Homo sapiens: one gene and its partner. The protein of the gene in region 1 interacts with the protein of each later gene in a pairwise test. Each region holds a gene or a part of one and is shown on either strand. Other genes may lie near its edges.

Region 1 (3,500 bases):
CTTTGGGAGGCTGAGGCAGGCGGATCACATGAGATCAGGAGTTCGAGACCAGCCTGGCCAACATAGTGAAACCCCATCTCTACTAAAAATACAAAAATTAGCTGGACATGGTGGTGCATGCCTGTAATCCCAGCTACTTGGGAGGCTGAGGCAGGAGAATCACTTGAACCCGGGAGGCAGAGGTTGCAGTGAGCCAAGATCGCACCACTGCACTCCAGCCTGGGCAAGAAGAGCGAAAACTCCATGTCGGAAGAAAAAAAGGTGGGGGGGGGTGGTGGCTGATGATGATGAAAATGACAGTAACAATGATATAAGAAAACTCTACTTAGGATTACTAAGAAGATCAAATCAAATGAAAATGTACAGCCAGGCGCGGTGGCTCATGCCTGTAACCCCAGCACTTTGGGAGGCCGAGGTGGGTGGATCACAAGGTCAGGAGATCGAGACCATCCTGGCTAACACGGTGAAACCCCGTCTCTACTAAAAATACAAAAAAATTAGCCGGGCGTGGTGGCACACGCCTGTAGTTCCAGCTACTCGGGAGGATGAGGCAGGAGAATGGAGTGAACCTGGGAGGCAGGGCTTGCAGTAAGCCGAGATTGCACCACTGCACTCCAGCCTGGGTGACACAGTGAGACTCCGTCTCAAAAAAAAAAAAAAAAAGAAAATGTATGTCAAATGTTGTAAAATGCAATACAAATATTGGTTGATATTGGTGGGAAAAGCCAAAGAGAAAAAAAGTATACAGTGCTATACAAAAGCATTATTTTTAATGAGCATTATTTGAAATAGCACATGTATTTCAAGAACCCTACCGAAAAAATCTTTATTCTGCCCATAGTATATTCACGTAGACATTAACTTCTCCAGTAGCATTTTTCACTAACTCCAACACTGGACTATTTCGTAACTGACCATATAACCACAAAAACCCCAACCATTAAACCCTTGATTAGTAACTCCCAGGGCCTGTTAATGGATTTTGAACTTGAGAGTTGGCAGTCAAATGGCCCAGGATGCCAGCTGCTCAGTTATTAGACATTTAGGGAAGAAGCAATGAGGAGATGACAGAGAAAGAGAGTTCCACTGTGGGTCACTGGAGGGGAGGGGTGGGGATGTGGGTCAGTGCCAGGTGAGTGATGTTGACAGTGGCTGGAGTCACAGTGGGGGGTAGGTGCCAGCAAGAAGGAATGAGGATGTGTTCACACTGGGATCTGGGCACAGGTGCCAAATCCTCCCCAAGAGGCAAATGAGGGTGTGCTGTGCAAAGGGCGTCTGCCTGGCAAGGGGGCAGCTAGCTTTCAATCCTGGCTCAGCAAGGTTAAGTAGGCAGGTTGCTTAACCTCCCTGAATCTAGACTTCCTCACCTCTAAAATGGGAACAATAATCTTTATTTCCTGGGACAACCACATGGATCAAATGAGACCTTCCAGGGACATGACATGTGCTTTGACAGAGAACACATAAAATGCTTTGTACAAGTTAAGATCTGAGCCTCTGCGCCTGTCCCCCTCTCCACGCGGGCCTGCACTCCCCGCCACTTCTGTAAAGACTGCCTACTCACTCCAACGCTCCTCCACTTTGCCGCACTTCAGCACTGGCCCAGACTCACGTTTCCACCTTTCCAAATCATTCTCAGAAATGTTTTATCCATGTACCCTCCCACTCAGCCAACTAAACATCTACCCACTTGCCAAGCATTCCCTGAACACCTACCACATGCCAGGCCCCATGCCAGGCACTAGGGACAAGAGAGACACCTTGTCCCTGTCCCCAAGGAACCGGTGGTATGGAGGAGGGAAGAAAACACGCTGGTGCTGCCATAGTGTGAGGATGGCCCCACACAATGCTCTGGTGACAGTGTGAGCCAGCAGAGCCAGGAGCAGGAGGAAATACCCTCAACACAGGGTGTTGGCTGAAGTGGAGCAGAGACTCTGGCGAGGGGTCCAGGTATGCTGCAGTTAGAAGGAGGGGTACATGTCTGACAGACATAGTGAGGAGGGAGAAAAGAGGCTGGACAATTCTGAACAGACTCTCAGGAGTTGGGAGCTACAAGATACTGAAAGGACGGGCTGCTGAGAAGGCAGGTTAAGAGCCAATGCTCAGGTTTCTACCTTGGGAAACCAGGGAGATGATGCTGTCTATTTACTGCTAAGAGAAAAGGAGAAGGTGAGGTAGTTTGGGGTGGATTATATCTGAGCATCCTGGGTTTGTGGATCTGAAGACTATCATGTAGAGATGCCCAGAGGGGAGCTGGAGCTCACAATCCTTCAGAAAGAAAGCCACACTCTGGAGCTGGACAGTCCTTTCAGTGAGTCAAGGCCCCAATATCCCAGTTATGCTCCAAGGCCTAAGAAAGACCAAGACCATCTTCCCATTCAACTTCATCTCCTCAGGGCAGAGCACTGTGCCTCCTCCCTCACTTCTTGTCCCCTACCCAGCACAAGACTCTGGCTCCACAGGAAAGGCACCCACTGGGCTCCTCTCCCTGACCGTACAAGAAGCTCAAGCAATGGAAACTTCTGTTCATACCGACATGTAGGACCTTGTGCCCACGAAGGAGTTGGCCATGGAGTCGATGAGCTGCCCGCTGACCCCAAAGTCACAGAGCTTGATCTCCCCACGGGAGTTGACTAGGATGTTGGAGGGCTTGACATCTGCAGGGAAGAGAAAATAGAAAAGGAGGGAACTGACACAGGTAGATTGGGGAAGAGAAGGATCAGCATTCCACACAGACCAGCCCTGACCACGAGTCCCAGGACCACACCCCCGTCCGCCATCAGAGGCAGCCCTTGGCTTGCAAACACTGTACACCAAGGCCCTTTGTTCTGAGTTCAAGAAGCAACTGTCAGGAGATGAAATGAGCAGCTGCTGTAGAAGTAGAACAGAAAGACAGTCGATTTCCACTCTCTAAGAATGCAGACTTGGCCAGATGATCCACAGGAAGGAGTCCGTTATCATGAACAGTCAGGATTTCAAAGTCTGTTGCTTCAACCACCCCTACTGGTAAGATATAGTATCTATGGCTGGATCATGAAGGAGGCAGAAAAAAACAAGTAATAAGACCTATCTGCTTGCTGAGGCTACACAGGCTAGAAGGGGACAGGGTTTGGCGGGAATTCCCATTCTAGACTTCTGCACCAGGCATGGAGCATGTGGGTCTTTTTCTTACAAATATGTGTGGCAGGGTGGGAGCTGAGTCATGATTCCATTCCATTCCACTGGAGTCACTCACCTAACAGCCTACACAGGTACATCTACCCTGCCAGTCAAGGGGAACCCCTTGCTACCTGGAGCTGGAATGTGAGAGGCCTTAAAGCTGCTCCTCAGAGTCAAAACGATGCCCCCATCCCCCTTCCTTGCACTCTTATTATCACCCCATCCCACCCATCCGGTCACTGTCACAAATACCAGTACATTGGCCCTTAGTTTGCAGAGACCTAAATTTCCAAACATTTTTTCTTCCGCTGTATCCTCTGATTCATACAACTGTCCTGTAA
Region 2 (3,692 bases), on another chromosome or scaffold:
ATCTCTACTAATGGGCTGCATGAACTGGCCCTAATGTGCTACATTTGGATATCTGTGAACCTTTCCAGAGAATGGAACTGCTAAGAAGTTTGCAACTGCTTTTTAACATATTTTAACCTTCTTTTACTTTTCAACTAATTGTGTTAACACTACCATAATTTCACCAAAGGATTAGAAACTCTCTATCTATCCCAATTAAAATATAGTCCAGGGCCGGGCACGGTGGCTCACGCCTGTAATCCCAGCACTTTGGGAGGCCAAGGTGGGTGGATCACCTGAGCCAGGAGTTTGAGACCAGCCTGGCCAACATAGTGAAACCCCATCTCTACTAAAAATACAAAAATTAGCCAGGCATGGTGACATGTGCCTGTAATCCCAGCTACTATGCGGGGCTGAGGCAGGAGGATCACTTGAAACTGGGAGGCGGAGAATGCAGTGAGCCGAGATCGTGCCACTGCACTCCAGCCTGGGCAACAGAGCGGGATTCTGTCTCAAAAAAAAAATTCAAAGTTAGCAGGGCATGGTAGTGTGTGCCTGTAATCCCAGCTACCCAGGAAGCTAAGGTAGGAGGACCACCTGAGCCTAGGAGTTTGAGGCTGTTGTGTTGTGTGCTATGATCACACCACTGCACTCCAGTCTGGGCAACAGAGTGAGGCCCTGTCTCTTAAAATAAATAAATATATATATATACTACATTACAAAAGAGTATCACTTAACTATTTCTTTGATTTTAATGACTAGCAAGTTCTTCTTTTTTTTTTTTTTTTTGAGACAGAGTCTTGCTCTGTCACCGAGGCTGGAGTGCAGTGGTGCAATCTCAGCTCACTGCAAGCTCCGCCTCCCGGGCTCATGCCATTCTCCTGCCTCAGCCTCCTGAGTAGCTGGGACTATAGGCGCCTGCCACCATGCCCACCTAATTTTTTTATTTTTAGTAGAGACAGGGTTTCACCGTGTTAGTCAGGATGGTCTTGATCTCCTGACCTCGTGATCTGCCTGCCTCAGCCTCCCAAAGTTCTGGGATTACAGGCGTGAGCCACCGTGCCTAACCAATGACTAGCAAGTTCTTTAACCCAATATAAATGAAATAAAAACCTTAATCAAGAAGTTACCACTTAGACATACACACAAATATCTATATGACGATTACATTCATCTAAGTTGCAATTATGACTAAGTCATCCATTAAAACAAAGAATCTACCCAAGTTTTACTAAACAGAGAATAATGTATTTTCTTCCAACTGCCCAAGAGTTTGGTTAAATGTGAGTTATACGAGTTAACAGGCAAAGCTAAATGTCTATCCTTAAGAATAACTATAAATAAAGATTACCAGTAGATAGCAATATGGATTACAATGGAATAAGCCATTGTATTCACTAAGTCTACTTCTATAGACTCAAAAAGAGGTACAATAAATGTAAGTACAGCAGTCAAGGAAGCAAAAATATCAGGAGAGCCAAATTCCTTTGAAATTTAACAAAAACAACAAATGTTCAGCAGGTCACATACAGCTGGAGACAGAAACAAAAGATAGGACAGCTGTGGCTGACCTAGTCCAGGGCTTTTTACCTGAAAGCTGGGGGCTTTTATTCCCCAAGGAACTGCTTCGACTAGATTTGCTGCCTTTGCTTTTAGTGGGTCGTCGTCTTCTCCCTGAAAGGGGAGCAGCTGGGGGAATAATAACAGCAGGGGGCACCTTGCCCAGTTTGGTATACAAAGATTCAATTTCATGCTTCTGGCGACTCTGCAGGTCCTGAATCTCTTTGAGATGTCTGTGAAAGATAACCAAACATAATTCAAAATACCATAATCCTCTTCATTCAGACAAGAATTAACAGCATATTCCTAAACCTGCTTTCAAGTATGTAGTAGTTACTAATGAACCTTTTCCCCAAATGTACTACCACGAGATTCTAGTTTGTCAACTCACCTTGCTGGCCTGCATTACCCAAGCCATGTTCCAACAAGCTCCTAGCCAACAACAAATGGTTGATAATGTTTTAGGAGAAAAACATTTCCTGACTTTTGAGGCCACGCACACAATAGCTGAATTTGCTACTCTGACCCAATCTGCCAAACAAAACGTGCCAAATAATCATACATCCCAGTGCCAGATTCATTTAGTGGACTAATAAATAAAGAGCAGTTAATAGTGATACAATATGCTATTAATAAAAATAATAATACAATACAGTAACAATAATACAGTAATAATATAGTAACAATGAAGAAGTTCTAGAACTAGAAATGCTATGGGTCTGTATGAGTGCAAGAGAAGCTGCCTGTGCCTGTGAGTCAGTGGTTGGGAATCGTGTGTGTGTGTGTGTGTGTGTGTGTGTGTGTGTGTGTGTGTGTGTGTGTGTGGTGGGGAGGTATGGGGTGGGGCTTCTGTGGCACTGTCTCTTTAAAAGAAATGAGACATTAGCATATTGTGGCGAAAAATATTATTAATCTTGGCCCTGGGATCTAGGTCTGAAAACCTTATCTGACATTCTTTCACAAGAGAAAATATACTTACTTATCTCGTAGTCGTCGCAGCTCTAACTTTAAGTCTTCATCTTCGATATCTGACTCATTGTCGCTACTCATGTAAGAGGAGTTAAATGAATTACTAAGGCTTTGACTTAGATTCTGGCTAGGAAGGCTCTTTGAGCTCAGCTGATGGGGCGAGTGTGGACTACCGGAACCATCATCCACATCCCTACTTAAAAAAGCGGCCTCCGGGTCAGAAGACGGCCCATTTAGATGTGAAGGCTCTGACAGTTCAGGCTTCTCTTTCTTTGGTATCACAGCAGGAAGAACAGCTTGTTCCAAATCCATAAAAGGAGGAGATGCCACTGGTCCTTCTTTCTTTGTGTCAGTGATCTTGTCCTCAGTTTTTGATACAGAGAAACGACCCACTTTGTTTGCTGTAGTTGTCACCTGAAAACGTCCAACCTTGGTAGGCTGCCCAGTGTCTGACTTTGCCTCTGAGGCAGTAGTTTTGTGGGCACTCTCTGGCACATCTGAAGAGATACCAGGGATGGTTATGCCATTCGGCTCTGGTTTCACCAAGGTACTCTCTGGACTACTACTTGATAGCACTGAGGACTCTGAGGTGCTGGATTCAAAATGAACAGACTTTGCATCTTCTGACTTATTTTTACCCTCTTTCTGGGCACCGTCTGCTGCAACAGAAACCTGATAAAAAAGGACAAAGATTAAAAACTTAAGTTCTCAATATCCAATTTCTATCACAGACAATTTAAAAAAGGAAAAAAAGAATCACTTTATTTCCCTGTCAAAGAGTAGGCTGATTGTCTCTTTACATAGCGCCTCCACTTTTGACTAGGAAGAAAAATTGAATACCATCATAGAGAACACATGGGTACTGAGATGCAGATTCTGTGTGGCTGGCTACGCTTATAAAGTAAATAATTTACTTTCGTATTTGATGTCATACACAGAATTCAGATTTATGTCTTAGTCAACATATACATAACAAAAGGTCAGGGCCAGGCATAGTGGCTCATGCCTGTAAGCCCACCATTTTGGGAGGCTGAAGCAGGTGGATCACTTGAGGTCAGGAGTTTCAGATCAGCCTGGCCAACGTGGTGAAACCCTGTCTCTACTAAAAATACAAAAATTAGCCAGGCATGGTAGCGTGTGCCTGTAATCCCAGCTACTTGGGAGGCTGAGGCAGGAGAATCACT

Evidence for each region. The genes of interacting proteins can lie anywhere in the genome.
Region 2: the proteins of MAP2K1 (region 1) and WNK1 interact in a two-hybrid assay, tested with the Homo sapiens proteins (one large-scale study listed by BioGRID and IntAct).

Annotation. Positions count from the first base shown.
Region 1 is NC_000015.10:66,480,912-66,484,411, reverse strand, and holds part of MAP2K1 (dual specificity mitogen-activated protein kinase kinase 1), read right to left. Parts: intron 2,658-3,500; coding exon 2,533-2,657; intron 1-2,532. UniProt on the Homo sapiens protein: Dual specificity protein kinase which acts as an essential component of the MAP kinase signal transduction pathway.
Region 2 is NC_000012.12:895,559-899,250, reverse strand, and holds part of WNK1 (serine/threonine-protein kinase WNK1), read right to left. Parts: intron 3,181-3,692; coding exon 2,519-3,180; intron 1,773-2,518; coding exon 1,570-1,772; intron 1-1,569. UniProt on the Homo sapiens protein: Serine/threonine-protein kinase component of the WNK1-SPAK/OSR1 kinase cascade, which acts as a key regulator of blood pressure and regulatory volume increase by promoting ion influx.